3 linked regions of the Homo sapiens genome follow. The protein of the gene in region 3 purifies or fractionates together with the protein of the main gene of each other region. This does not show direct contact. Each region holds a gene or a part of one and is shown on either strand. Other genes may lie near its edges. The genes, in order: EXOC6B, EXOC6 and EXOC7.

What was found.
Region 1: the proteins of EXOC7 (region 3) and EXOC6B purify together in Homo sapiens (affinity purification with mass spectrometry; 3 studies listed by BioGRID and IntAct, with this or other methods). This does not show direct contact.
Region 2: the proteins of EXOC7 (region 3) and EXOC6 purify together in Homo sapiens (affinity purification with mass spectrometry; 5 studies listed by BioGRID and IntAct, with this or other methods). This does not show direct contact.

Annotation. Positions count from the first base shown.
Region 1 is NC_000002.12:72,820,950-72,831,420, forward strand, and holds the start of EXOC6B (exocyst complex component 6B), read right to left. Parts: upstream 5,085-10,471; 5' UTR 4,962-5,084; coding exon 4,849-4,961; intron 1-4,848. UniProt on the Homo sapiens protein: Component of the exocyst complex involved in the docking of exocytic vesicles with fusion sites on the plasma membrane.
Region 2 is NC_000010.11:92,842,847-92,853,211, reverse strand, and holds the start of EXOC6 (exocyst complex component 6), read right to left. Parts: upstream 4,693-10,365; 5' UTR 4,679-4,692; coding exon 4,578-4,678; intron 1-4,577. UniProt on the Homo sapiens protein: Component of the exocyst complex involved in the docking of exocytic vesicles with fusion sites on the plasma membrane.
Region 3 is NC_000017.11:76,080,516-76,090,122, reverse strand, and holds the end of EXOC7 (exocyst complex component 7), read left to right. Parts: coding exon of another isoform or gene 1-79; exon of another isoform or gene 80-381; coding exon of another isoform or gene 382-448; intron 449-802; coding exon 803-948; intron 949-1,199; coding exon 1,200-1,352; intron 1,353-1,560; coding exon 1,561-1,659; intron 1,660-2,000; coding exon 2,001-2,063; intron 2,064-2,402; coding exon 2,403-2,469; intron 2,470-3,230; coding exon of another isoform or gene 3,231-3,269; intron 3,270-3,977; coding exon 3,978-4,043; intron 4,044-4,325; coding exon 4,326-4,446; intron 4,447-4,713; coding exon 4,714-4,809; intron 4,810-5,542; coding exon 5,543-5,606; intron 5,607-5,833; coding exon 5,834-5,875; intron 5,876-5,983; coding exon 5,984-6,117; intron 6,118-6,372; coding exon 6,373-6,475; 3' UTR 6,476-7,469; coding exon of another isoform or gene 7,470-7,660; 3' UTR 7,661-8,073; coding exon of another isoform or gene 8,074-8,241; 3' UTR 8,242-8,367; coding exon of another isoform or gene 8,368-8,578; 3' UTR 8,579-8,720; coding exon of another isoform or gene 8,721-8,845; 3' UTR 8,846-9,107; downstream 9,108-9,607. Other genes in the region: ligand-gated cation channel ZACN precursor, read right to left, coding at 7,470-7,660, 8,074-8,241, 8,368-8,578, 8,721-8,845. UniProt on the Homo sapiens protein: Component of the exocyst complex involved in the docking of exocytic vesicles with fusion sites on the plasma membrane.

The sequences.
Region 1 (10,471 bases), on a different chromosome or scaffold from region 3:
TCAAAAGCATGAAACAAAATAAGAAAAAAAATGATAACTGGAATTAATTTAAATTAAAAACTTTTGTGCAGCAAAAGCTAAGAACATGAAAGATATCAAAAAATGGAAAAGACAAATCACAGAATAGGATATAGTATTACAAATCATATATCTGATAACAGGACATATTCAGAATACATAGAGAACTCCTACAACTCAACCAAAAAAAGAAAAGCAAATAACCCAATTTAAAAACGGGCAAAGGATCCAAAAGGGATAAACAATGACCAATAAGCACATGAAAAGAACAGCTATTACGGGAATGCAAATCAAAACTACAATGAAATGCAACTTCACACCCACAAGGATGGCAAAGTAAAAAAGATGATAACAAGTGTTGACAAGGATGTGGAAAAATTGGAACCCTGATACATTGCTACAGGAATGTAAAATGGCGCATGCACTTTGGAAAAACAGTCTAGCAGTTCCTCATAATGTTAAACATAGAGTTACCTTACAGCCTAGAAATTCCACTCCTAGGTACATACTCAACAAAAATGAAAACATATGTCTCTACAAAAACTAGTATACAAATGGCCATGGCAGCATTGTTCCACAGCCCCAAAATGGAAACAACCCAAATGTCCATCAACTGATGAACAAATAAAATGTGGTATATCCACACAATGGAATATTATTCATCGATAAAAAGAAATTAAGTACTGATACATGCTACCACATAGATGAACCTTGAAAACATTCAGTTACCAAAAAAACCCATATTGTTTGATTCCATTTATACAAAATGTCCCGATGTCCAGAACAGCCAAACCCATGAAGAAAAGTAGTGATTGCCTAGGGAGAGAGAGGGAACAGAATGGAGAGACCACTAATGGGTACAAGGTTTCTTTTTGAGTAATGAAAATTTTCTAAAATTAGGTTGTGGTGATTGCTGCACAACTCTGCGAATATACATACCCAAAACCATTTAATTGTATACTTTAAATGGGTAAATTGTATGATACATGAATTATATCTCAATATAGTTGTTTTTTAATGGCAATGTATTTCAATATTAAATTTTAAGTTTGAAAACAAAATCTTAAACAACAATTAGACTGAATGTTAATTGCTATTACCCAGAGTACCAAGTGAAGAAATGACTTCTACTGAGTAAGTGATATAAAGGAAAAGTAGAGATATAGGGATGGGATTTGAAAAATGAAAACAGGGAGCTATTGTTCATAAATGATTTGTCATCAAAATTTTAGTATTTATAACACAAAGCAGGAATGAACATTATTTTAAAAACAGGACAGGCAGGCTTTAACATCTTACAGGCCTCTTTCCAAAATTAGGACTCACAGATAACAAAATAATTTTTAAGGTAAAGACAAAGAGAGAGATAGCTACTTTCCCAAAAGAGTTTGCTAGGCAACACCCTCTTTATGTGTGGATATGCTTGGGCCTTTCAGAATTACAATGAAAAAGAAGAGGTGGTATATCCTTATGATAGATGGGAATCTACCAACATTGCATGTACAGCTCAAAACTAAAGTAATAACAGTAATATAATGAAAAAGTCAAGCCACTGTGACTCCTCAAACAAAAAGGAGTAAGACTGGAAAAAATAATCCGTATCATAGCAAAGAAAGAAAGCAAGTAATGATACACAAATAATAGCTGGCAAAGGAAAGAGTCTGGTTAGGCAATACAGCCAAGTGGATTTTTTTGAAGAGCAGGTATTTTAGGGATATACTAATCTAATATCTGCTCTCAATTTACTTTCTGTGTTCGTTAGTTTCTCTTCAGCTAGAAAACCCATCTCACGAACAGTTAAGAATCTGGTGCCTTTACAATGTTACCTCAAAAGATGAAGAAAGAGGAAAGACATACTATGAAGAAGAAAAGTTCGAGGTTTACAACTGAGAGTAGTTAAGGCAAGAGAGCTACTGCCTTAATCAAACCTGTTTCATGATAGTGATGAAAAACAGGAGATAATGACAATAGAGGCACATCCCAAGTAAGGCATGGGATCTGAAACATCAAGTCTGTGCATGCTGCTGCCTCTGAACGGGATAAGGAAAAAAGGTGAGATCATCCCCTATGAATATGGGTAGGGACAGCTAGACTAAAGACAAAGGCAGTGGGTACTCCTTGTATTATAGGATATTCAAGTGAATGAACCCTGGGTCTGACAGTAAGACTCAGTGTAATCTGCTAAAAAAAAAAAAAAAAAAAAAGTTGAGATCAAAAATGATGAGCCCATAATAATCATATAGGAAGTCAAGAAAAGCAAGTAAAACTGGTAATGAGTCTCAAACTTTCTTTTTTTTACAGTGTCCCCTTAGGGCAAAAGACCTCTTAATCCATCTATCTACACAAAACCCCACTTTTCAGTGAAAAAACTCAGTAACAACAATGAAACAAGTTTTAGGGAGACTGGGTAACTTATATTTAAACCGTAATGTATATACAGTTGACCCTCTGTATCTGCAGGTTCAACCAACTTCTCAAATCAAAGTTTTAAGAAAAAAAAAAAAAAAAAAACAAAAAACAAAAAAAAAGACAGTGGCCAGGCACAGTGGCTCAAGCCTGTAATCCCAGCACTTTGGGAGGCTAAAGCAGGTGGATTGCTTGAACCCAGGAATTCAAGACCAGCTTGGGCAACATGGTGAAACCCCATCTCTATATGAAATATAAGAAATTAGCCAGGTATGGTGGCGAACGCCTGTAGTCCCAACTACTCAGGAGGCTGAGGTGGGAGAATCACCAGGAAGTCGAGGCTGCAGTGAGCAGTGACGATTGTGCCACTGCACTCTAGCCTGAGCAACAGAGTGAGACCCTGTCCCAAAAAAAAAAAAGAAGGATGGTTGCATCCGCACTAAACATGCTACAGACATTTGTCTTGTCATTATTACCTAAACAATACAGTATAACATATATTTACATGGTATTTACATTATATTTGGTATTATAAGTAATCTAGAGATGATTTGAAGTATACAGGAAAATGTGTGTAGGACCATTGACCCTTAAGAGCTGAAGAAAATGGGAATTGAGAAAAGCACAATGGTCCTGATCATAAGGCAATGGGGGTTGGTGGAGAGACAGGCAACTGTGTGGAAGAACTGGTCCAAAAAAGGGAGCTAAAAGTCACTTTAAGGGACAAAGGGGCCAGGCACGGTGGCTCATGCCTGTAATCCCAACACTTTGGGAGGCTGGGGTGGGAGGATCATTTGACCCCAAAAGTTTGAGACCAGCCTGGGCAACATGGCAAAATCCCATCTCTACAAAAAGTTTAAAACTTAGCCAGGTGTGGTGGTGGTGCACAGCTGTAGTCCCAGCTACTCAGGAGGCTTAGGTGGGAGGATCTTAACTCAGGAAGTCAAGGCTGCAGTGAGCTACGATCACATCACTGCACTGCAGCCTAGGAGACAAAAGGGGACCCTCTCTCAATAAATGAATATTAGGTTGGTGCAAAAGTAATTGCGGTTTTTGCCATTGCTTTTAATAAATAAAGAGACAAAAGGCAAACTACTAAGGATAGTTATGACCAGGGGTGGTACTGGCAGAAATGTGCTAACAATGTGTCCTGGAGAAGGAAGCTGTGCAAGTGGAGAGGAGGAGTAATTTCCAGCCTGCCCTCCAATTAGTCTTTCCTGAGTCAACTTACCCCAAGAAAACGCAAGCAGTGAGTAATAACTTTTCTGATGGGAGGGGCAGTGACCCAAGACTGTGCAAGGAGGGTAGGATAGTTATCTATGTATTGGCTGCATGATCAGAATGCATAACAGTAAGGGATAAGGATGAGTTGGTTCTAGGACACCAGTAACATGAGGGGAAGGGGGAAAGTAGTTCAAAACTGGGCTTAGTGAGTAGTTACCAACAGTAAGTACAGGTAGCCGATAATCCCCAGCTGAGGCAAAACAGTGGTTAAGTGTCTGGGTCCAGGCTATCCGAGTAGGAATCTGAGTCCCCCACTTTATTTTCTCTGTGACCTTGGGCAAGTCACTTAACCTATCTGTGCCCTGTCTGTAAAAGGAGAGTAATAGAACCTACCTAATACGGTTGTTTTGTAGCTTAAATAAGTTGCATTTGTAAATCACTTTATACAACGTCTTGGACTTTATGTAACAAGTGCTACCTAAATTTGTTAAATAAGTTGAGGTAAGTAGGGATTTCTTTTGACATCTCCAAATAAAATGGAGATGTGCGTGCAAAAAAAAATGATAACTGGGGGGCGGCAGCAGGGTCAGTTTTCCCCAGCGATGAGGAGGCTGCACCGTGGGCGAGGGTCGTCCTCGTAACAGGGAGGCAGGGATAAAGGAGCAGCGGCTCCCAGGAGAGGGGCGCGGGTTGGGGAAACTTCCATCCAGGCCTAGGATTTCCAGGGACTCGTTTCTGAGAAGTGGCTGTGATTCTGAGGCAAGACTTTGATTTCGAGCACTAGACCATGGAGTGAAATTCTGTGTTGTCTGAAGAGCAGGACTCCTGTCTAGGGCAGGACGTAGTTAGAGACGGAGGGAGAAGGGTGATGTCCCCAGGGGGAAGATCTGCCGGGAGCCACCACCATCTGTCGGGCGCCCTCTCGTTCCCCAGCGCCGGACCAGCCTCGGAGGGAGAACGAAGGCTGCTCCTGCCCCGAGGGAGGCAGCGGGAGGGTCCTGAGTCACTGGGCTGTAGGGCGCCGGGAAGGGACCCCGCGTCGGGGCTGCGAAGGGAGACCCGCCTCGCCCGGTATGCAGGGTCTCTCCGAAGGGAGGGGCCGGCGCCGGACCTGGGGACAGCCGGCCGGAGGCCCGACCCAGAGGAGCCTGCCCCGTCCCGCCCGTTCCCGCCCCTCTGTGGTCCCGGCACCCGGGGTACCTGAGCGTGGGCCCGATGCAGGCCGTGTCAGTGCTCTCGATCTCTCGCAGGATCCGCTCGTGCTCTGCCGCTGTCTCCAGGCTCTCCGCCTCCGCCATCTTACCCCGCTCCATAGACTGGGGGCGCCCCGCAGCGCGTCCCCTCCGTCGGCTCGGCTCACCTTTTCCCTGCCCCACAATGCCGCTCCCACCACAGGCTCCACAGCCGCCCCAGCCTCTGGCTACCCGCAGGCCGACCCCTCCCTCAGGCTCGACACGCCCCCTTGCGTCACCGCGTCCGTCGGCGTTCTGCGTAATGTCCGCTGGGATTTGTAGTTCTCTGGGAAATGCTAGGTTGGATTCCATTCATTCATACATGGAATCCGCAAATACTAGTTGAAGCCCACTGTAAGCAAAAACAGTTAACGACAGTGCGTAAACAGTGATGATCAAGTCAGGCAGTGGCACTAAACCTACAAATTCTTGTTTACCACCTTTGCCACAAAGTGCCAAGGCTCCGTCGGCGCGAATAATAAAGTCTAACTTAATGTCTGACAGAGGCCTTACAGTCTAGTGGGGGAGACACGGGGAGCTGGAGAATTCAAAACTGTGAGCTGTAAGCCAGTTCCGATAATGGAGTTCAGAGATCTCTTCTGGTTGCCAAGGCTTCATAAAGACACTGGGTTTCGGAGGTTAAAAGGCATAACTGGAAGGTGTGAGGAGAATCCAGACAGCCAAAAAGAATTTCATTTGCACTGACGTGTAAAGACGTAGTAGTAAGGGATGGGTCTGGAAAGGTTCGCTGGAGAGAAATTACGAGGAGCCTTAAATACTGGGCTGATAAATGTGTACTTTGTTCTAATGGTTCCACTGATCCAACAACCAACTGCAACAGAAGCACCTGGAAACATTTTTTTTTAATACAGACTGACTGACAGTCATACATCTGGAGATTCTGATCCAGGCATCTGCATTTCATGAACTCATCAGTTACAATTTAAAAATCGGATTTATTAATCATTGCTTGAGTTTTTACGTAACACAATGAATGGGAAGGCACTGAAGGTTTTTTGGGGGTTTGTTTGTTTGTTTGTTTTTGAGACAGTGTCTTGCTCTGTCGCCCAGGCTGGAGTGCAGTGGGGCGATCTCGGCTCACTGCAAGCTCCGCCTCCCGGGTGCATGCCAGTCTCCTGCCTCAGCCTCCTGAGTAGCTGAGACTACAGGCGCCCGCCGCCACGCCCGGCTAATTTTTTTTTTTTTTTTTTTTAGACTGAGTCTCGCTCTGTCGCCCAGGCTGGAGTGCAGTGGCGGGATCTCAGTTCACCGTGAGCTCCACCTCCCGGGTTCACGCCATTCTCCTACTTCAGCCTCCCAAGTAGCTGGGACTACGGGCCCACGCCCTGGGACTACCACGCCCAGCTAATGTTTCGTATTTTTAGTAGAGACGGGGTTTCACTGTGTTAGCCAGAATGGTCTCGATCTCCTGACCTCATGATCCGCCCGCCTCGGCCTCCCAAAGTGCTGGGATTAGAGGTGCAGGTTTTTAAGAGGAGTGACACAATCAAAATGTGGGCGTTAGGAAATTTGGTGAAGGGCAAGTGTGCAAGATGTGCAGAGACAGAGAATTTGGAGATAAGGCAACACTGTAGGAGATGAGAAGGCCTAAACCAGGGAAGCAGCAATGAGAATGAAAAAGAATGAACAAGTAGGAAAAACATCAAAAAGAGAGAATTGACAGGATTTACTAGATACCAAAAAGGTTAGATATTACTCCAAGGTTTAGTACCAGAGTGACTAGTAGAAGAGAGTTTCCACTGACAAAAAAAAAAAGGCATGAGAGAAGAACCAAACTGGAAGTTTAGGCTAAATAATTTGTGCTACAACCATACTATAGACTATTATGCAATCATTAAAAAGAAAGACAAAAGACTCTATGGTCATACATGAAACTGTCTCCAAGTTGTAGTTGTTGAGTGGAAAAATGCAAGGCATGAAACAATATGTAGACTCTGTCCTCATTTGTTTTTTAAAAGAATAAATATTCATATATACGCTTTGATATATATACACACACACATATACATATATATAATATTACATAGATAGAATCTGTCTGAAAAAATGCCCAAAAAACTGTTAACAGTAATGGCATCCAGGAAAAAAAAAATTGGAAAGAAGGAGTTTGAAGTAGTAAGAAGGTAATTTGTAATTATCATTTGCACTCTTGGAATTATTTTCCTTGTGCATGCACTGCTTTTTTAATAAAAATAGTAGTCATGACCTAAGAATGCATTTTAAAAATAAACAAACCAGTAGTAAGGGGAATGGGTTACAAGTCCTGATTTGCCAAGAAGAGAGCAAGTTGATAAACCTGTCTGTCTCTAGATAATCTCTGCCTGTCCTCGTTTTGTTTCATTACTCATGTTTAAACAATTCCAAACAGATGTAGGAGGGGTAGGGAGAGTATGGAGCCTTTTGTATTTCTAAAGATCTCTTGAAATACATGACCGAGGGTCCCTTCAGACACCCATTTTAGCATCTCACTCAGCAAGTTTTTCACCCATCCAGGCTGCTGCATAGACGACATACATTCAGCAGTAGTTAAACTAGCTTCTGCTACTGTCAGCAGTTTTTGTGAGCCTCCACAGAGGCCAGAGGCCACACATCTCAGCAACAGGAACAAGTCTGCAGTAAGCAGTATTGGAAACCTCCAGTGAAGATGGCAAGATGGCCTGTCTAATGTTTATGTCCTCCAAATAGAAAGAATGTGAGTCGCATTGATTCAGTTCCAGCATTAGTGGTTAAAATGTTTTGAGCAGGCTGGGCACAGTGGCTCATGCCTATAATCCCAGCACTTTGGGAGGCCGAGGCAGGTGGATCACTTGAGGTCAAGAGTTTGAGACCAGCCTGGCCAACATGGTGAAACCCTGTCTCTACTAAAAATATAAAAATTAGCTGTGCATGGTGGCAGGTGCCTGTAATCCTAGCTACTCAGGAGGCTGAGGCAGGAGAATCACTTGAACCTGGGAGAAGCAGGTTGCAGTGAGCCAAGATCACGCCACTGCACTCCCGCCTAGGTGACAGAGTGAGACTCCATCTCAAAAACAAACCAAAAAATGCACTGAGCACTTTCTGTGTGCCAAGCACAATATACAAAGTAAGTACTTCACATATATCAACCTCATTAAATCCTTACAACAATCCTTTGCAGTAAAAATCACGTGTCCCATTTTACAGATAAGAAAGCTGAAATATTAGGCAACACCCCACATCTCACATCCATTAAGTAATGAAGCTGGTATTCGAACCAGGTCAATCTGATTCAAAGGCCTATTTCCTAACCAGTAGCCCATGCTGCCCCACCCAGGCCCTTCACGGCCACGAGTTTATTATGTGACCATTCTGCCACTCTATCTCTGCTTCTACATTAATATAATGGATTGTATCATTTCTCAGAACCCTTCCAAAACACCTTGGAGACCTCTTCACAAAACCACATCCCTCCACTTACCTAGAATGAACTGGTTTTCTCTTCTGCATGAGTAGATAGGCAGCATCAGCATTCTCACTGCTCTCCACTGCCACATCTAGGCTGTTGTTTCAACACCCTGATTCCCTAACTCTCCTTTGAAGTCTAGGGCATCAGATTATGCCATAATTATCTACTAATGTCCATATTTCTCCGAAATGTTACTTCTTGGCTCACAGTTTTAGGGACAGGAGGTAGGGAAATTCTGGGCAGAGGAGCACAGGTCCCCAGCAAGGGCCCCACCCTCAAGCCTGGAACCACAGACCAAAGTGAGAACATATATCCCTGTTTTCTTGCTCGAATGTTGCCTTTTCCAAAGCCACCCATGGCCTGCCCCGCTCCCCATCCTGTGCCCATAAAAACCCCAGGCTCTACTGGCAGAGAGGAGAAGCAGCTGAACATCAGAGACTATGGTTGAACATTGGAGATAAGGGGCTTGACTTCAAAGGGACAGCTTGATGGAGTAGCTCTGAAGGAAAATTACCTTCCTGCTCTGTCCCCTTTACAGCTCCCCTTCCCACTGAGAGCCATCTTCCTCAGCAATAAAATCTCCCACATTTACCATCTTCAACTCTGTGTGACCTCATTCCTCCTGGATGCCGGGTGCAGGTGCAAAAGTCTGTCACACTGACCCTCCACTGAGCTGCTAACATTTAAGCTGTCCATGGATGACAAAGCTAAAAGGACACTGTAACACTTCCTCTGGGGCTTCAGGGGTCACGGGCTCCCTCCCCTAGATACTGCCACAGGACCAATACGGAGTTGGGTCTTGCTGGTGCCCAAAGGTGCTCGTCCCAGCTCCTGCACACAGTCACCTGCCCTCTCCCTCCCACAATAGGTAGAGCAGCAAGTGAGTGGAGTTCACCCCTGCCAGTGCCCATGCACTCCAGTTCCCACCCACAAAGGGGTCAGGGAAATTTCCTTATTCAACAGTTTTTCTCTCCACCCCATTCCTTATCATGATCCCAAGGAATTTCAACATTGGGACTGTGTGTGCTGACCACTCTGACTTTACTGATCGATCCCAAGTATCCCAGCCAGGTTCCTGGTGCCACATGGACAATCCATTCATGGCTTCACCTTCTACCTTAATATAGTAAGTCCTAACTTAAAATCACCATTAGGTTCTTGGAAACTGAAACTTTAAGCGAAACTGTGTATAATGAAACCAATTTTACCACAGTTCATTGATATAGACAAGAGTTAAGTTTCTACAGCCTATTTCTGATCTCAAAAACATCATCGAACTTCTAAATAAATACCAAAACACTTCCATTGCTAAATATTGAAATAAGAGCTAGATATACATTTTTAAAAGTTTAATAAAAACAAATAAGATAATGATTTACCCACTTTTTGGTGAACCAGTGAGTGACAGCAATTGTAGTGGTGGTGGGTTAAATCAAGGAATAAATGTTTACAAGACAAAAATTATAAGGAGTACCTCCTACCCAAGGTTCAAAAACAATCACTGAGTGCTTTAGTACAGCATCATTTATTGTTGTGCACCAAACAATTATCAGATACTTTAGGATGTCTTCTTGTACATTAAGTTGTATTCATTCATTTTCCAACTTGCTTATTCCAATTCAGGGTTGCAGGGGGCCAGAGCCTATCCCAACAGCTCAGGACACAAGATAGGCACCAACCCTGGACAGAATGCCATTGCATGGCAGGGTGTACTCACACACATACCCACACTCACTCAGAAACAATTTAGAGATGCCAAGAACCTAACGTGAACATCTTTGGGATGTGGGAGGAAAACTGAAGTACCGGGAGGAAAACCAAAGTACCAGGAGAAAATGCAGGCAGACATAGAGAGAATGTGCAAATTCCGCACAGACAGTGGCCCTGGCTGGGAATCTATTTTTTTCTCATCAAATGTCAACCTAAAAAATCCAAAAGTTCAGAATCTAATTTAAAAAGAGTTTATTCAAGCACAAGGGTTGAAGAGGGCCACCTGGGAGCATAGATTCAAGTTGCCCTGAATAATACACACTTCAATTAGTGGCAGTTACAAATGGTTTTTTGGGGGTTTTTTGGCGGGAGGGGATGGTTTGAGATGGAGTCTCGCCCTGTTGCCCAGGATGCAGTGCAGTGGCATGATCTTGCC
Region 2 (10,365 bases), on a different chromosome or scaffold from region 3:
TTGTATTTTTCACATACAAGTCTTCCACATCTTTAGTCAGATTTATCCCTGAGTATTTCATATTTTTGATACCATCAAATTTTAAATTTCAATTTCTGATTGTTGCTAGTACAGAGAAACACAATTGGCTTTTGCATATCCACCTGATTCCTACAACCTTGCTAAACTCACTTATCAGTTCTAGTAGCTTTTCTGTACATTCCACAGGATTTTCTATAATAGTTGATCACACAGTGTGCAAATAAAGACGGTTTTCCAAACTAGATGCTTTTTTTTTAAATGGTCTTATTATACCGGCCTTATATTCAACATTCTAGTACAGTGTTGAATAGAAGTGGTGAGAATGAATATCCTTACCTCATTCCTGATTTTAGAGGAAAAGCATTCAGACTCTTACCACTAAGCACAATTTAGCTCTAGATTTTCATAGATGCCCTGTTTTAAGCTGAGGAATTTCCATTACTAGTTTCTGAGGGTTTTTAAAATCAGGAATTAATATTCGATTTTGTCAATGCTTTCTCCACATATATGATCATACAACTTTTCTTTGTTTAATATGGTGAACAATGTTACATTGATTTTTCAAATGTTAAGCCAGCATCTTTCTTGAAATAAACCTCACTTGATCATGATGTATTCTTCACATATATATACACACACATATATACATATACAGAATATACTTTTTATATAGATGTATTTTATACTTTTAAATCCACATATATGGATTTAATTCTCTAAAATTTTTTGTAAAATCTGTGTGTATGAGGAATACTGATTTAGTTTCCTTTTCTAGTTATGTCTTTCTTTCTTTAGTTCTGGTATCAGGTTAATGTTGACCTCAAAATGAGCTGGGAAATATTCCCTCCTCTTCAATTTTCCAGAAAAGTCTTTGTAGAATTGGCATTAATTCTTCCTTAAAGATGTAGAATCCACCAGTAAAACTATCTGGGCCTAGAGTTTCCTTTTGGGGAAGGCTTATAACAGCAAAATTCCCTTTCTTTAATTGATACAGGGCTATTCAGCTATTTCTTCTTAAGTGAACTTTGATAATACTTTGTATCTTTCAACTAATTTGTCCATTTCTGCTAAGTTGCCAAATGTATGAGCATGAAGTTGTTCATAATATATATACATTTTTTGAGATGGGGGTCTCACTCTGTTGCCTAGGCTGGAGTGCAGTGGCACAATCTCAGCTCTCTACAGCCTTAACGACCCAGACTCTGAGCCATTCTCCCACGTTAGCCTCCCGAGTAGCTGGGACCACAGGCACACACCACCACACTTAGCTAATTTTTGTATTTGTAGAGACAAGGTCTCATTATGTTACCCAGGCTGGTCTTGTATGCCTGAGCTCAAGCAATCCTCCTGCTTCAGCCTCCCAAAGTGCTGGGATTACAGGCATGAGCCACTGCACTCAGCCTATTCATAATATTTCTTAACCTTTTTTTAATGTCTGTAGAATCTATAGTCACGTAACCTCTCTCACTCCCGTTTTTTTGTTTGTTTGGTTAGTTGGTTGGTTTTGTTTTTTTTTTGTTTGTTTTTGTTTTTGTTTTTTTAAGATGGAGTCTCGCTCCGTCGCTCAGGCTAGAGAGTAGTGGCATAATCTCGGCTCACTGCAACCTCCGCCTCCCGGATTCAAGCGATTCTCCTGCCTCAGCCTCTCGAGCAGCTGGGATTACAAGCGTGTGCTACCACACCCAGCTAATATTTTTTTGTATTTTTAGTAGGGACGGGGTTTCACCATGTTGGCCAGGCTGGTCTCAAACTCCTGACCTCAAGTGATCTGCCTGCCTCGGCCTCCCAAAGTGCTAGGATTACAGGCGTGAGCCACCGCGCCTGGCCCTGTTATTTTTAATTTGTATCGTCTCCTTTTCTACCCCTAAAGGTTTATCAATTTTACAGTCTCCTCAAAGAACCAGTTTTGAGTTTCACTGACTTTCTGTATTTCTGTCTCACTGAATACCACTCTGATCTTTACCATCTCCTTTCTTCCACTCTTCTGAATTTCATTTGCTCCTCTTTTCCTAGTTTCTTAGGCTAGGAGCTGAAGCCATTCTTTTCTAGTAGAGGTGTTTGGTGCCATAAACTTCTAACTATTTCTTTAGCTGCATTCACAAATGATATGCTGTGTTTTCATTTTACTCAGTTTAAAATACTTTCTAATTTCTCTTTTGATTTATTTTTTGTGTGTTAGTCAATGACCAAATATTTGGGAATTTTCCAGATAGTTTTTGTTTTTTTGTTTTTTTTAACTACTGATTTCTAATATACTTCTGTTGTGGTCAAAGAACCATGTTATATGTCAGGGCCTGCGGAAAGTTTATCACGTGCTTCTCAGGAAAAGATCAGGCTGAAAAATCCCGCCGCTGAGAAAAAACAATATAAATAAAATGATAAGTCTACAGGCCAGCTAAAAGATAATTAGGAAATAACAACAAAAATTAATCTTAATACTAAAATATTTATGAATAAATTGATGTCTTGGATTTCCTTCAAAATAATCCAAGATGATAGGGAGTAGATAAGGGAAGAGATCAAACAAGACTGGCCAGGGAATGAATTGAAGCTAGATGACAGTTCATGGTGGTTCATTACACTATTTTACTTTTTTAAACATTTAAAATTTTTCCATAATAAATGGTTTTTAAAAATGCAATATTAACACTTCACTTCGTGAAACCTGAAAAAAAAGGGAAAAAATAGTAGTAGCTTAAACAATGTTCAAGAGAAAAGACTGCTAGCAGTACCCTCTATATGTGTGCAAAAAGCGTCTGCTTATAAATGAGACACAAATATACATATATATGGGATAAGTATGAGTCACCAGGGATTGCTAAAGAAAAGAGAGTGGGTTCAAACAAAATGAGCCAGTTGAAACAACTGCCCAGCAAAAAAGAACAGAATAACACTATGAATACACATATTCTGTTCCTGAGTGTCCCAAAAATCTCTCAATATATTTCAAATTTTTCTTCTAAGTTAATTTCATCTTTTTTCAAGGACACTACCTAGCACATTTTCCTAAGATGAAGCACCTCCTTCATAACCAGTACTATTTTCACAAATAAACTACTCTAGTAACTTTATCACACACTGCACTCTCAGTTTCAAGATGCAGTGATGAAAACAAAGCTTCCTTTTAATCTTACTTCTTTCATTACCAAGTATACAGTTTATTAAAAGAAATAATAATGTTGGAAAATTAAGGAAATGCACTAATTATGCATTATCATATCATAGCAGAAACCTTATGTGACAAAAATTTATAACATGCCTACCACATGCTTGGTGTTAGGGATACAGTAGTGAACAAATAGGCAAGGTCCCTAATGTTCTGAGTTTCCTGGGCATCTGAATACTCTCCCCTCCCCATTCTACAAATAAGGAAACCGAGATCCAGAGAGGTTAAATAATTTTTTTCCATGACTGCACATTTCATCAGAGGCAGAATTAGGGCAAAACAAGAACCCAGGCCTCCTGACTCTTAAGGGCAAGGTGTATTTACATAACTTGAACTGGCTTCAATTTACACTATATTCACAGGTCCACAAACTGTACAGCGCTCTATTCTAGGAAGTGTATTCTGAAGAATACTAATGATAAAGCATAATCAGTCTCAAGTTCCCTAAGTGAATAATAACTTCATTTATCATTATTATCACTCCAAAAGATGAAACCTTATATGTAAAAGGAACTTATTCTTGAAGACAGTGCCTAACCTAACCCATGGCTCATTACGTTGCCTGGCTAATAATATTCTATTGGAACAGCAGGTACTCAGTTTGGCATGGAATATGCATTACCTAGTACTATTCTTAAAATGAATGGGGAGGAACTCGATTTAAACGGAAAAATTAATGCAATTTTAATGAAATGTTTGTAAATAAGTAAAAGCTGTTCTGCCTCCAAAGCAGCTTAGATCCCGCGAGCGCAGGGTCACCCTAGCGTGTTCCCAAGCAGCAAGCAGCTGCTCTCCTCCAGCCCACGCTCTCTTCTCCAGCCCACGCTCTCTTCTCGCCCACTGCGGCCGCGCGGGGGAGTAGGGGGAAAGCGGGCCGGCGTCTCCCGCTCAATTTCAATTCTCCCACGCCCGCGGCAGCCCGGCGCGCCAGGCTTTCCACCCGCGCGCGACCTGGCACCTCCGTCACGCCGGGTGCCTGCTGTCGACCCTAGCCTGGCATGCCCGCGGCCGAGCAGCCCTCAGCCCCACCACGAGCGAGACGGGGGCAGGCCCCAGAAGTGTCCTCGGGCCCGGGGGCCGCAGCCAGGAGGAGAACGCGGGGCCGCAGCGCGGGGCCCGGGGTTAGAGACCCTGCAGCAGCCACACCCACCGGCTGCGGGGTGACAGCTACAGCGGTGGAGGCAGGCCGCGCCGACAGGTGCAGCCGCCTTCTCGGTCCCGCCCGGGTACCGGCTAGAGTTCCGCCACCCGCGAGCGCCCCCGCCCGCCCCCGCGCGCACCACCTGTCGGGGAGCTTCGCGCGCGGCCGGCGGCGGACGCCCCGCCCGGCTCGTGAGGAGCGGCCGGCGTGGGGCGGGGGGCCGAAGTCCCGGTGGGATGAGATCTTTACCGGAGGGTGGGCCCCACACAGGCGGTGTCGGTGCTCTCGATCTCCTGCAAGATCCGCTCGTGCTCGGGGACGGTGCCCAGACTCTCGCTGTTCTCCGCCATTTTGGCTGGAAGCTGAGGAGCCAGCGAGGCGCGGCGCCGCGGGAACGACGGGGGCGAGCTCCAAGTGGCGCGAGCGCGAAGGGGCGGGGCGGGGGCGGGGCGCTCGGGCCGGCGGCGCGGGGGCGCGCGGAACGCCGGGCAGAAGGCGCGCGACCCGGTTCCCGCCCCCGCACCTGCAGGAGTGAGCGGGGGCTGTGAGCTGGGGCTACGGGCGGCGGCCGGGTACCCAGCTGGCCTCCTGCCCTCTCTCGCGACTAGTCCCTCCTGGGCGTCTTGTGCCTGGCCTTTGGGCTTTAACATATCTCCTTGTCTTCTGTGTGTGCCACACCCTGTGCCACACGCGGGGGTACCGTAGTAATCAGCAAGGTGGACACTCAGATCATCACCCTGAATCTGTAATAAGAGCCACGGGGACATTTAACAAGGGCCTGATGTACTCTGGGTCGTGGGGAGTCAGAGAAAGGAAAACATGCACTCACGAAAAGCAAAATTGCATGTGATAGTAAGATTTATTTTAGGAACGAATAAAGATCCCAGTTGACCATGAAGACCGCTCCAGGTGGATTCATGTCCCCGCCTGCAAGAAGTCCACAGCGGCCAGTCAACTTGGAAATAAATTATAAGCGACATAAAAAATTAAATGATGAGAAGTTAAGACACTTGATGGCAGAGATACCAAAAAAAAAAAAAAAAAAAAAGGCCCAGGGCGATGTGTAATTCATACCAAAGTCCGTGAACTCAGGTGCCCCCAGGTCAGAGTAGCTGGGTTGAGAAGGGGTGAGAGCTCTTGAAAGGGGGTTAGCAGCAGGGAGGTGGGAGAGAGAGGCAGGGAGGCTTGGACAAAGGTATCAGTGTAGAAAAAAGTCGTGCTTAATGACATGTTTGTGGGACACTGAGTAAACCAGTTTGTCATGATCAAAGCAGGGAGGAAGGAAGACTAAACAGGAACAGAATGGAAACCTAGCCTGAGGAACAACTACTTTCTGCTCTACATTAATCCAGGGCTTTGAAAAGCTTCCCTTTGAGTCAACCAAGCTCTTTATCCAGCTGTGTAACTCACTCACCCTTAGTGAGCTTTTACTTGAAACCTACCTCCAGCCTCCTCCCCACAAACATCCTGGGAGGTGGTATTGTGCAATAGTTAGAGCATGAGCTCTGAAGACCAGTGTCCGAAGACATTAATTCTTGGATTAATATCACTTGACAGCTGTGTGACATTGGGCAAGAACCTAGTTCTTTTATATGTCAGTTAAATGACTGTAAATGACAATGGCAGTGTCTGCCTCATATTGCTGTCCCATGGTGTATGAGTTTTCCATTGTTGCTTTAACAAATCACCACAAATTGAGTAGCTTAAAATGACTCAGACATATTATCTTACAGTTCTGTACGTTAGAAGTCTGTCACAGGTCTCACTGGGCTAAAAATCAAGGTGTCAGCATGTCTGTGTTCCTTGCTAGAGACTCTGCGGGAGAATTTGTTTCTTTGCCTTTTCCAGCTTCTAGAGGCCACCCACATACCTTGGCTTGTGGCCCCCTTCCTCCATCTTCAAAGCTAGCAGCATTACATCTCTCTGACCATTCTTCTGTGGTCACATCTTCCTCTGACTCTGACTTAGGCTGGAAAAGATGCTCAGTTTTTAAGGACCCATATGATTAGAGTGGACCCAACCATTTAATCCAGGATAATCTTCCATCTCAGGGTCCTTAACCTTAATCACATATGCAATACCCCCTTTGTCATGTAAAAATAACATATGCACAGGTTCCAGGGATTAGAATGTGAGCATCAGTGGGACCCACTGCCTACCAAACTTAGGAAGGGCCCTATAAAACATTGCTAATGCCCTCCTTCCTATTAATCTGGAATCTTCAGAGCAATGGATTCCAGCTATACACATCCATTGAGCTAAGACAGTCTTCCATTTCCTGCAGAGAGACCTAGCTTTTCATTCTTTTTGTGGGAGGGGATAAAATTTGTCTTCTTTTTTTTATGTTTCAGTTTCAATTTTCAAAAGGTTATTTTCCCCTCTCAAGAACTTCTTAGGTCGAGCACAGTGGCTCACACCTATAATCCCAGAGCTTTGGGAGGCTGAGGCAGGAGGATTGCTTGAGCCCAGGAGTTCGAGGCTGCGGTGAACTATGATAATGAGCAAAATGAGGAGAGCAGGGCATGTGGCACAGGCCAGTTTCCTATTTGACCAATGTCTCCAGCTGGGGAATTACTTTCCTGATCATTCCTTCCCTAGAACTCTACCCCTTTTCTTCACCAGTCCTGATACCTTTTATTCCAAAGCTGGCTCCAAGTGCCCCTGCTCTGGGAAACCAGCCCTGCTTAGGCACTCCTCAGGCCAGCCCTGTTTCAACACCTGCCCATAGAGATTACTTCAACATAAGCAGCAGTATCTTCCCCGAAATTCAAGTGAACATGGAAGGAAGTCCATTTACCACTTCTCCTTCTGAAACAGTTTTTGCTGGTTCCCTCTGAGACTTCTGACAGTTCCGTGAGTACCTGGAGGTTTTAGCTAAGAATTCAAAGCTAAATGTCCTAAATAACTAATTGCACATTTGTTTTGTTTGTTTGGTTGGTTTTTTCGAGACAGAGTTTCGCTTTTGTTACCCAGGCTGGGTAACAATGGCGTGATCTTGGCTCACTGCAACCTCCGCCTCCTGGGTTCAAGTGATTCTCCTGCCTCAGCCTCCGGAGTAGCTGGGATTACAGGCACGTGCCACCACGCCCAGCTAATTTTGTATTTTTAGTAGAGACTGGGTTTCTCCATGTTGGTCAGGCTGGTCTCAAACTCCCGACCTCAGGTGATCTGCCCGCCTCGGCCTCCTAAAGTGTTGGGATTACAGGCGTGAGCCACCGTCCCCGGCCCTAACTGTACATTTTAATCATGGACATAGATATATCAAATATGTCAATGTGGGGTGGGGGAAGCCTATCCAAGGGATAAATGATTTTTTTTTTTTTTTTTTTTTGAGATGGAGTCTCTCTCTGTTGCCCAGGCTGGAGTGCAGTGGTGCGATCTTGGCTCACTGCAACCTCTGCCTCCCGCTTTCAAGCGATTCTCCTGCCTCAGTCTCCTGAGTAGCTGGGATTACAGGTACATGTCACCACATCCAGCTAATTTTTGTATTTATAGTAGAGATGGGCTTTCACCATGTTGGCCAGGCTGGTCTCACACTCCTTCCCTAAAGTGATTGCCCTGACTTGGCCTTCTGAAGTGCTGGGATTACAGGCATGAGCCACCACGCCCAGCCCCAAGGAGTGAATGATTTAACGTCTGCACTGAGAAGGTTGCGGAGTAGCAGGGCACAGACAGGCAGATTGCAGATGCATGTGGAATTATTTTTTGGCAGTGGATATTGACTTCCAGAGATCAATCCAAAATCTCTTTTCAGGACTCCTGGAAGAAGAAAGATACACCAGGAAGACCAGCAGGACAGGAGATGCATTTTGTGTCCAGTATAAAAGTAATTGGCAAAGTAAGGATTTGACTTGTAAATAAACTCTTAGTCATTAGGAACTTAACTTTGCGCCTTTTATCTACAGACTAATGACCTGTCTTGGGAAAGCGCCTCCCTCAGAATGAGGTTGTAGAGTGCAACTGCTCTGGTCTGGCATTTAACTACTTGAATTCAAATTCCAACTCATCTCTTACTAGATGTCAGGCCTCAGGGAGTTACTTAACTTGACTAAGGCTCACGTTCTTCAAGTGTGAATTAAGGACAATAAGAATCCCTAGCTCACCAAATTATGTGAGGATTAAAGAAGATAATATATGTATTATGTTTAGCCTAGAGCTCAATCAACATTAGCATTGGCGACTAGGGTTATCAGGCATTTGCTAGTAAGCCAGAGAGCCCAGCATTTTAGCCTCCTCTTTGATAAAATAAAAATAAAAACCAGACACATAAATGTTCTTTTTCCTAATCATTAAAAAAAAACCTGATTGTGTATCAGGGTTTTCTGCATGTTTGGTGGATGTAAACCAACTGAAATATGTTTCCTGCTTTTGTAGAGAGGGAAACAGGAACATGTCTTTGGGTTGGATTCTTGGTTCCAGACCCATTTTAGTGAACCCTCTGGATCCTGCGCTTTTAAGGCAAGCACCTTTCGTTGTCCTTGGGAGCAGTGCTCACTCATCCTTGGAAGCACATATCATGGTGGTGAACAAATCACTGAGTCTGTCTCCATTTCCAGGAACTGCTCCTACATCAGGCACAGGGACGATGCCTGTATTGTTCACTGCCCAGCCCAGTGCCTTGCATATAGTAGAGGCTCAATTAATAAGTGAATGATCCACATGCAAATACTTGTCGTATTAAGCTTAATGTTGTAAATGGCATGTTTTTCTTTTTTTTCCTTTTTTTTTTTTTCTGAGACACAGTCTTGCTCTGTCACCAGGCTGGAGTGCAGTGGCGCGATCTCGGCTCACTGCAACCTCCGCCCTCCAAGTTCAAGTGATTCCCCTGCCTCAGCCTTCTGTGTAGCTGGGACTACAGGCACGTGCCACCACGCCCAGCTAATTTTTTTTTTTTTTTTTTTTTTTTTGAGACAGAGTCTCGCTCTGTCGCCCAGGCTGGAGTGCGGTGGTGCAGTCTCGGCTCACTGCAGCCTCCACCTCCAAGGTTCAAGCAGTTCTCTCCCGAGTAACTGGGATTACAGGTGCCAGCCACCACGCCCGGCTAATTTTTGTATTTTTAGTAGAGACAGGGTTTCACCATCTTGGCCAGGCTGGTCTTGAACTCCTGACATCGTGATCCACCCACCTCGGGCTCCCGAAGTGCTTGGATTACAGGCGGGAGCCACCGCGACGGCCCACTCAGCTAATTTTTTGTATTTTACTAGAGATGGAGTTTCACCATGTTGGCCAGGATGGTCTCGATCTCTTGACCTTGTGATCCGCCGCCTCGGCCTCCCAAAGTGCTGGGATTACAGGCGTGAGCCACCGCGCCCGGCCAAATGCATGCTTTTAGAGGTAGGGTACACATTTACAAAAAGATTCCCCTCCTCACCCCTGGGAACCCTATCATTATCCTCGCAAAACTTTACATCATTCAAATGTTTCTTAAAGAGTTTTAGAGCTCTTGTTATAGAATTATAGAACTGTATCAAAATGTAAAGTACAGGCAGTCTTTATACATTGGCTCTGATAAACTAATCCTTCCCAGTGGCTTTTAGCCACTCGTTTCAGATGTCCACCGTCGCAGGGGCCCTCCTCCAGCTTCTGCCTTTTTGGTGTGGTGACCCCAAGTGGCCACACTCTGTAAGTGCAAGAGAATAAACAAAGCCCAGCTGGTCTGGGAGGATTCCTGCTGTAAAACCCTGTGCAGGAATCGGCTGTTCCATAAAGATCTGGACCCCACGGTGGAGAACAATAGAAGGAAATTTGAAATTGAAGCCAAATAAAATCAGTTTTTTTCTAAAATACGGGCCAGTCCTCAGAGGAGTTCAAAAGCAACTAGCCCCGGGTTTTGTTCATTCAACAACTATTTTTATTAAATGTTTGCTGTGTACCATGTTCATGTATTAAGCTCTCAGACAGGGCTGGCTCATGGTGTGTGACCTACGCAGTTGCCTTTGGTTCAATACCCTGTCATCACCATCTTGTAATTCTTAATAATTTTTGAAAAAGGAATCTACATTTTCATTTTGCCCTGGGCCCCACAAATTATGTTGCC
Region 3 (9,607 bases):
GGGCCAAGGGGAGAAGCCGCTGCTCCTCGGAAAGCAGGCAGAGAGGGAAGGTGGCTCCCTTGAGGGCAGGGAGCCCTGACGTCCGCCTCCTGCAACAATTCAGAGCTCTGATCCCCTCGGAGCCCATCCCTTGGCACATAGGACCAGGCAGTTCTGCCGCCGGTTTTGCCTGCAGGCGCCCCCGCCGTGGCCTCCAGTAATAGGGTCTGGCCTCCTCCTGGGGCAGCTGGCAACCCCTCCTCTCTGGGACTTACCAGCCTCTTAGATTTTGACCCCATGCCAGCCAGCCTCAGAAGCTGCAGCCAACCACCCTCTTAGATGTTCCAGAAGCCCTGACTGGGCTGGTCACTTCCTTCACAGGCCCCGCATTTGCCCACATGGATGACCCCAGTGCCAGCCTCCTTGAGGTGGCACAGCCACCTGCCCACCCTGGGCTGCCCTCTTTCAGGTACAACTCAGAATGCTCAGTCCTGGGGTCAAACCACCTTATCCAGGACGCTGATTCAGGAATCTTCCCTCCTTATCTTTCCATCCGTCACTCTCCTGCCTCTGGTGTCTGATCCCACTGTCTGCGCAGAGCCGAGAATGAAGCCAGAACAAAGGCTGGGCTCAGCTCCTTTTATTCCCCTCGAACCTGGCGGGGCCTGCTGGCTCCCTTGCAGCTTTCTGCCAGAACAGTCAGCCTCTTCCCCATCCTCTGCCAGTGTGGGGTACAGGCCAGGAGCTGGGGGACCCACGCCGCCCCCAGCCAGGAGTGTGGCTGGCCCCAGACCAGCAGCTCAAGAGTTGTGCCATCCCCCAGGGAGAGATGACATGCTGGACGTGGAGACCGATGCCTACATCCACTGCGTCAGTGCCTTCGTCAAGCTGGCGCAGAGCGAGTACCAGCTGCTGGCCGACATCATCCCCGAGCACCACCAGAAGAAGACCTTCGACTCCCTGATACAGGTCCCGCCCCGCCCCGGGGGCTCTGCAGCCAGCCCCAGCAAGAGCTGTCACAACAGACTCTTGCAGCCCTCAACTCCACCCACCACCACCACCTCGTGCCCTGGGGACCGGTCCTGGGTGGACGCTCACCACCTCCCCGTCACCCCTCTTCCTGCACACTGGCCCCCCTACATACTGCAAGGATCCCCCACTAGCCCAGAACTAGCTCCCACCGCCCCACCCTTCCCTGAACTGTCTCCCTGCCCCCTCAGGATGCCCTGGATGGGCTGATGCTTGAAGGGGAGAACATCGTGTCTGCTGCCCGGAAGGCCATTGTGCGACACGACTTCTCCACGGTGCTCACCGTCTTCCCCATCCTGCGACACCTCAAGCAGACCAAGCCTGAGTTTGACCAGGTGCTCCAGGTATGTGGGCGAGGGGCCCTCAAAAACACAGCCAGGAGGCATCGTGCTGCCGGGTGTGGCCGCCCCATCCCTCCCTGGGAGAACCCCATTCTCTGTCCCACACTTCTGCTCTGAAGGTGCATGGAAGCAGCTTAGGAAGGGCCCTGGGTGAGTGAGATGCTCACAGAGCGACTGGAGGTGAGCTGGGGGCTCCCCTGTGCTTCCTCAGGGCACGGCTGCCAGCACAAAGAACAAGCTGCCTGGCCTCATCACATCCATGGAGACCATCGGTGCCAAAGCGCTGGAGGACTTCGCAGACAACATCAAGGTCCCTGCTGTCCTCCCCTTTCTCCCTCCCTCCCGGCCCAGCACCACAGTGACCTGGCCCTGGGGGACTCTCAGAGCAGGCCTCCAAGAGGGTGCGTTGTCCCGGGGCAGCCAGCTGCGCCACTGGCCTGTCAGCACCCATGTGCCTTCCTTTCCTTCCTGGGGCCTCCAAGCCCTCTGAAGTGGGAAGGGCCTCTCCCCCTTGGTCCAGCCTGGCTCAGCCTTTGTGCCTGAGAGGTGTCCTAGCACCCGTCTGCCAGGAGGCGGCACCATGAGCAGGTGCACTGGGGCATGGGGTGGGCTGGGGGCTGCTTCAGGGAACCAGAGGCTGTTTTTCCACAGAATGACCCGGACAAGGAGTACAACATGCCGAAGGACGGCACCGTACACGAGCTCACCAGCAATGTGGGTGCTGCCTGAGGACACCAGGGAGAGGGGAGGAAGGAGGGCCCAGGCCCAGGCCCAGGGCCAGGCAGAGTACTGGTGGAAGGGACTCAGCCTGGCCCAGAGCCGCTCGCACCTTTGTGAGCAGTCCTGGGTGGCAGGATGGACAGTGACATGTTTAGTGTCTCTAGCAGACAGGGCCTTTCCTGGCAGGCTAGAGTGAAAATGAAGTTTCCAGCCGCGCTCTTCACTGGGCGGATCCCAGCCCTGGGCTGGCCCTGGGCACTCAGAGGGGTCGCTGTGGGAGGCCGTCGGCCGGGCCTGCCACTTGCCCTTCTGCACCGTTTTCTTCCCACCCAGGCCATCCTCTTCCTGCAGCAGCTTTTGGACTTCCAGGAGACGGCAGGCGCCATGCTGGCCTCCCAAGGTACTGGTACCTCCCAGTTGGGCCCCCTGCCCCACTCGCCTCCTTGCCTGGAGACATGGGGTTAGAGGGCAGGTAGCAGTGAGGAGGTATCTCCAGTCTGTGGAGGGGTTGAGGTGTGCTCAGCAGAGGGTCCCTGGGGCTGAGCATCAGGAGAGCAAGGTTTGCCTGCACCTTTCAAGACCAGACACTGGACCTCTGGCCCCTCCCTCAGCCCCTTTGACCGTCCTCGCCCTGGAAGCAGTGTCCTCACTCTGGGAGCGGTGCTGGTTGGTTGGAAGGTGTCCTTTCTGCCCCTGCCCCCCTCCCAAATCCTTCTCTCGTGTCTGCCTGCTCTCCTAATCAGGCTCGCTCAGCTGGCCTTCAGAGGGTAGCAAGTGTCTCAGGGCCCGCTGGGCGTCTTCCTGCTGGCCCTGCCCTGGGACTGGAGCTCAGGGGGTTGGCCTGTAAGCAAGAGCACCTTTCTGGGTCATTCCAAGCACTGAGGTCCCTGGGCCCTCTCCTCCCGTCCCATTTTGGGGGCAAGGAGCCTGTGGGCAGCCTCCAGCCTGCAGTTCTCAGCTCTCTACTTTCCAGGGTGTTCCCTGGTCCTCAGAGGGTCCCGCCTGCTGTGTCTTGCTATCTGTGTTTTGGCTGTCGTGGGGAGAGGTCTGCTTAATTCGGGTTGACATGCCGTTTCTAACCTGTTTTTTGCACTTTGCATCTTTCTCCCTCCTTTGTCTCTCCCTCTGTCCCCTCTGTGTGCACTGCCTTTCACTCCGTAGTTCTTGGGGACACATACAATATTCCTTTAGACCCCCGAGGTAAGCAGTGCGGTTCTGCAGCCCCCTCCTGTCCCTCTGAAGCTTGGTGGGTGAGGTTCCCTGGGGACTGACTCTCAGTACCTACTGGGGAGCCTGAGTCAGAGGGGACATGAGTTTTCTCGGGGTGCTCTCAACTCTCTCTGCTCCCTTCAAGGCCACTCTGTCTCTGAGCTTATCCGCAGCACCTGCCCAGGCTAGAGCCCTGGATACACCCCCTAGGCTCGCCCGGCCTCCCTGCCTTGCTGTCCCCACTCGGCCTTCCCCACTGTGCAGGCCGCAGCTTCGTCTGTTCAGTAGGGTCTGGTAGAGGGGATGTTCGAATGTAGGGGAGAAGGTGGAGAGGCTGTGGGGAGCCCATTCTAAGACTCTGCTGTTGACAAAAGGAAAAAGGGGGCCTTGTAGAAACCACCCAGGGTGGGTGGGGGCAGGAGGGGACAGGGCGCTGGCATCTCACTCTTTTCCTGCCAGCTTTTCTGCTGACATGGGCCAGCTCCATCCCATCATAGAGGGCAGCTCTGGGTTCCAAAAACTCCAGGGCTGGTGCTTCCTGCGGCAGGGGCCACCCTGTGGCTTAGCAGGCAGCCAGCTCTGCCCAAGGAAGCCCAGGGCCTGTCTCAGTGTCCCCTCAGACTGCTGCATGGCCTGGGGGAAGGGCCGTTGAGGGTCTTGGCTGCTGCCACTGCAATAACAGGACTTCTCCTCTCACAGAGACCAGCTCTTCGGCCACCAGCTACAGCTCTGAGTTCAGCAAGCGGCTGCTAAGCACCTATATCTGTGAGTGTTCTCCCGGGCAGACCAGCAGCCCTGCTGCCTGCATGCCCTGCCTTTCCCTTCCTTCTGTCTGTGCTCTCTGGCTATTCCCAGGGCCCTCTCCTAAGTGCCATCTGATCTTTGGAACCACAACCTGACCTCTAGTTCAGAGGCTGAGGGGAGTTGGGCTAAGGCCTCCTGAGGCAGGACGAGGAGCGATGGATAGGAGCGCGTTCGCGGGTCCTGGGGTGGGGTCGTTTGGGTCAGACTGCCATGGTGGGTGTGGCCCCATTTTTCCCTGTGCAGGTAAAGTGCTGGGCAACCTGCAGTTGAACTTGCTGAGCAAGTCCAAGGTGTACGAGGACCCAGCTCTGAGCGCCATCTTCCTGCACAACAACTACAATTACATCCTCAAGTCCCTGGAGAAGTAAGTGGCCTGCGGGAGTGAGTCTGCGGCTCTCACCTTCCCCTCGGCTGTGCAGCTGTGCCAGCCCCTGCCCCCCTGGGCTCCTTCTCTTGTGGACGAGAGGGGAGGGGGTGCTTCAGTCTCCTCCACCCCAGGACCCGGAAGGTGGGATGCCATAGAGCTTGTGGAGTTTGGGGTGCAATGGGAGGCCCTCCCGGCATTGCCGCAGCCTTTGGGCCTGAGGAGCCAATCCTGTCCTCCTCTCCTCTGTCCCCTACCCCGACCCAGGTCTGAACTGATCCAGCTGGTGGCAGTGACACAGAAGACTGCTGAGCGCTCCTACCGGGAGCACATTGAGCAGCAGATCCAGACCTACCAGCGCAGGTGAGAGGCTGGGCCCGCCCTGCTCCTGCATGGGCCCCTGTGCCACCACGCACTCTTCCTTCTCAGCACCTCAGGACACAGAGTCGGTCACGGGGAACTCCTGTCCTCTGGACCCTAATCCTCCACTTGGTTTCTAATCAAACTCACGGGGTGGAGAGAGAAGCCCCCTCCTCTACCACTACCTGCTCCTAGGGGCCCACTATGGCCACTTTAGAGGGGAGTCTGCCAAGTGTCAAGGCTAAGAATGATTGAAGAGCTGGCTCTCAGAGACGTGGGTAATGTTTACCTAGGAGAAGAGCAAGGTCGCGAGAGCACTTGAACGTGGCTGAGCCTTGCTCTGTGAGGATCCCGCTGCTTCTCTGGTCCTCTTTCTTCCTGGCTTTGTTTCTTCCCTTTGAATGTGTCTACCTCTTCCTTCTCATTTATCTGCCCTCCACTCCTTTCTTTCTCATCTGTTTCTCCATCTTAGTTTGCCACGATATTGATGTGAAGTATAGTTGACAGTATTTGTCCAATTTATTGAACACTCAAGTGTTTCCTAATGTTATCTCAAAAAGTGACCAGTTTAAAGATTTTCTCTTCCCAGGAAGAAAACCTGTTGTTTGCTTAGTTGTGACCCACATCCCTTCCTACCACCACCCACCAAGTAGATCCAGAGATTTAGCAAACGAAACAAGCCAGGCCACTGAGGCAGGCCACCCTCTGCCCTCATGCTTCTCTTTCTGTCTGGCAGCTGGTTAAAGGTGACTGATTACATCGCAGAGAAGAATCTACCTGTGTTCCAGCCGGGAGTCAAGGTGGGCTCAAGACCTGGGCTGGGAAGGGGTGTCTGGCAGACGGGATACTTTTTGTCGTGTCTCTGGGAAAAAGTGGACAAGCATCCCTCTGGGATCAGAGAGCAAAGGATGCATGTGGCCATCAGGACACAGGAGACAGGCCCAGACCAAGGGTGTTTGGGGAAGAGTGGGGGAAGGCTGCTCTGCTCTGAAGTGAGCTTTCTCTGCTATCTCTCCTGGCTTCCCAGCTCCGGGACAAGGAGCGGCAGATTATCAAGGAGCGTTTTAAGGTGAGTCGGGGTCCTCTCCCCTCCACTGCTTGCTGCTGCTGTTGAGGCAACACAGACCCAAAATGTTTGTCTCTGGGTGCCTTCCTTTTTCACCTTTTTGGTGGCCAGGGCTTCAATGATGGCCTCGAAGAACTGTGCAAAATCCAGAAGGCCTGGGCTATTCCAGACACAGAGCAGAGGGACAGGATTCGCCAGGCCCAGAAGACCATTGTCAAGGAGACCTACGGGGCCTTTCTACAGAAGTGAGGCCTCCATTCCCCTCCCAGCCTGTGCTGCCCACAGCCCCAGTGGGCCTCTTCAAGCTCCTCTTCCTCAAGGGAAAAAGGAGAAGGGTGGTGGATTTAGGCAGCAGATCCAGCGACCTGGGCTTTGGGGCGGGGCCAGACAGGGAATCGCTCAGGGCCACCCCTTCCAAGACTATCAGGAGTGCCTTAGGCTGAGGGTGGAGCTGGGGAGGGGTCGGCCCTCCCTGTCCCCTGACCACAGTGCCTCCTCAGGTTTGGCAGCGTGCCCTTCACCAAGAACCCGGAGAAGTACATCAAGTACGGGGTGGAGCAGGTGGGCGACATGATCGATCGCCTTTTCGACACCTCTGCCTGAGCCTGCTGCTAGCCCTGCCTGGTTCCACCAGACTGGCGTGTCATTGGACAGATAAACCAGTGTTAGCTTGCCTCTGGGCTGGGTGAGCTTGAAGTCCTCTGGGACAGAGACCTGTCTCCACGCCTCCGGGAGCTGTGTCCCTGAGCCCCCTAGTCCTGGCTCCTGCTTTTTCCCCACAGCCCGTGTTCCCAGCCGAACCAGCACTCTCCCGGAAGCCTGGGGTCCCTCCACACCTTGGCTTTTATGACCCTGATGGCTTCTGAAACAGGAAAAGAGAGAAGGAAGACAGAGGCCTGTGCCCACTGCTGCTCCATGTGTACCAAGAGCAGCAGGGCAGAAGGGCCCTCCCTCCAGCCTAGGTCAGAGGTGGGGACAGAGAACTCCCCTACAGCCCAGAGATGTGGCAGGGCTCAGAGAAGCAGCCAGAGCTCCTGGAGGAAAGGCAGTCGGGACTGACCCCCTCTCTTAAAACACATTCCCGCCCGCCCACAGGCCTGAGGTCTGGGACCTTTCCCTCCCAGGAGTCCCCTAGGTGGCTGGGGGAGGCAGGCTCACTGGCCATTTTCCCTAGAGTCCAGCACACTGCAGGAGGCGTTCGGAGGAGGAGTTCCGCCCCACCCTCTACAGCCTTCCTCAGGCCCCTGTCTCTGGCCCCCAGCCTCAGTGCCTCTTGGCCCAGGGCCAGGCAGTCGTGGTTGCAGAAGGAGCAATTAGGCTGCCTGCCTGTGGGCTGGGAGACAGGGACAATGGGGAAAAGTTAAGGAGCAAAATGGGGGTTGGAAGCAAAAAATAGGGCCCCACCTATTTAGGACGAGATTGAAGACTGACCCTTGAGGCACACTTGCACTGGAGATGGGTTTATTTCACGCTCTGTGCTTGTGTGCTAGCGGAGGGAGAGCTCAGGGTGGCTTAATCCAGAGGCCCTGTCATGGCCCGCCCCCAGCCATGGGAAAGCAAACTTCATCCTAAGGTGTGCAGCCCAGGCCCTGCCCCTTTACAGTCTAGGCCGCCTGCCATGGGGTGCAGCCTCTCCAGGGGCTGCGTCAGACTTGCACGCTGCCCACATCCAGATTCCTGCAAAGACGAATTGGGTGCACAGCACCCCAACCACATACACGAGGAAGAAGATGCGGTCAGCAGTCTCAGGCCAGCTTCTCTGTGACCCCTTTACTCCTCTGGAGGGCTCTGTGGGGAGAGATACAGGGAAAGGAGCTGTTCTTCAAGGTCCCCTCAACATGAGCGGAAGAGCGAACCCCAGGGGTCATCAGCCTGTATCGCTTCCTTTCTTAGATTCTCAGCTGATGAAAATTTGGGTCTGGCCCATTTCAGGCCATCTTCAGTTGAAGAAACACCCTCTTAGGCTGTGCAAGGCATGGGTTATCAGGGGATTGAGGTCACCTGGGACTTCAGGGAGGCTCAGCTTGCTCCCTGCCCCAGACCTGTTTCTTCTAAGGGAGGAGGACATGGTGGAGACCAGGGACAGGAGAGCCAGCAGGGTGGATGCAAGGGGCCTCTACCCACACCTGGACCTCCGTGCCCTCACCCCAGCCCTAGGTGTGCACCTAGGCCTCATTCCTTACCCCCCAGCCCCTGCCCACCTTCAGCAGGATGAGGCCCTGGGTTGCCGTGCTCTCGCTGTTCCCCTCTCGGGGCTGGGCTGGGGCCGCTCTTGGCCCCAAGGTTGCCCCGGGCCAGCAGCCCAGCCAGCAGCACAGTCTCTATGGTGCTGAGGAAGAGCAGCAGCAGCAGGATGGTGAAGTAGTAAACTGGGGGAGGCAGGGCACAGGGAGATGCTCAGGGGCCAGTCCCTGTGTCTCTGGTGCCCAGCGAGCTGAGCACCAGTGGGTGACCGGGGAGAAACAGGGCAGACTGGGTAAGGGAGCAGGGCTTACTGAGCAGTGGGTTGCAGGAGGAGGAGCTGGGCAGGGCCTGCACCAGGGAGGAGTGGAGGACGAGGTAACTCAGCAGCAATGTCACCTTGTAGCCTATGCGCTCAATGGCCCGGAGGGGCAGCAACCCCCCGCACACGTCAGCCAACAGCAGTGCCTCTGCAGGCACCAAGAGAGCGATGATGGACTTGAGCGCCGTGTTCTTCAGCCTCAGCTGGAAGGGGAAAAGTCAGGGCCTTCCCGGCGGGGGGGAAGGAGGTGGGCATCGGGGGCATGGGGCCTGGCCTCTGGCCGTGCATCCTCACTCCCACCCGCCTCCAGCAGCCCTCTGTCGGCCTCCTCCCGACTTGACTCACCGTCACCTGGAAGCAGGGCACCAGCTGCTGGGGTGGGACTTGGGTCTTCAGATCATAAACTACGTATTCCCTCTTGACACTCACAATCTCGTTCACCACGTGGGCCTGGAACTCTAACTCCATCGCTGAGGGGTGGGAATGAGAACTATGAACCAGGAAGGAGAGATCCCAGCTGCCAAGTCTGGGGGTAGCAGACTGGAGCCCAGGGGTGATGGAGACTTTTGATGGCTTTTGGCAGGGACAGACTTGGACACAAAACCGATCCATAGAAGGGCTTCCCAAACCTTGTTTTGCAACATCCCAAATTGTCTCCAGTTGAAGGAAGGCCTTTATCAGATTCATAGATGAGCTTTCATTGTAAAAATAAATGTACTTTGCACCACTTCATGATGGAGGGAGAAGTGGTCACAGGCTCGTCAGTCTATCATCTCACAGCTGAAGCAGGATCCCCAGGGCTACCGCTGTGGTCTCTCATGGAGGGAAGGGTAGGACTTCTCTGCCAAGTTAGATGTCACCTGATGGGTTTATACAGGGTGGCTGCACCTTCAGGTGGTTTCCAGGAGTGAGGCCATGGCAACCTGAGCCTCTGGCCTTGCTGCAAGGGGCCGAGCCACTGCAGTCGCCATGGCTGTGGAGGGCAGTTGCTCTGGGGAGGACAGAAGACTGATGTGCTCGGACCTCTGGGATTGCAGAGCTGCTGCGAATGTTTGAGTCTGTCACCCTAGAGAGGGGCCCTGAGGCTACCGCTGAGCACAGAGATGGGCTGCCACTCGAGTGGGGGGCGCAGTGGGAGAGCAGGTGCTGCCCGCCTAAGCCTGGGGTAGACTGCTCTGAACACAGACCTGGGAGTTCGCCTTCTGTCTGCCTTTGCCCCTTCCCCTTGCCCC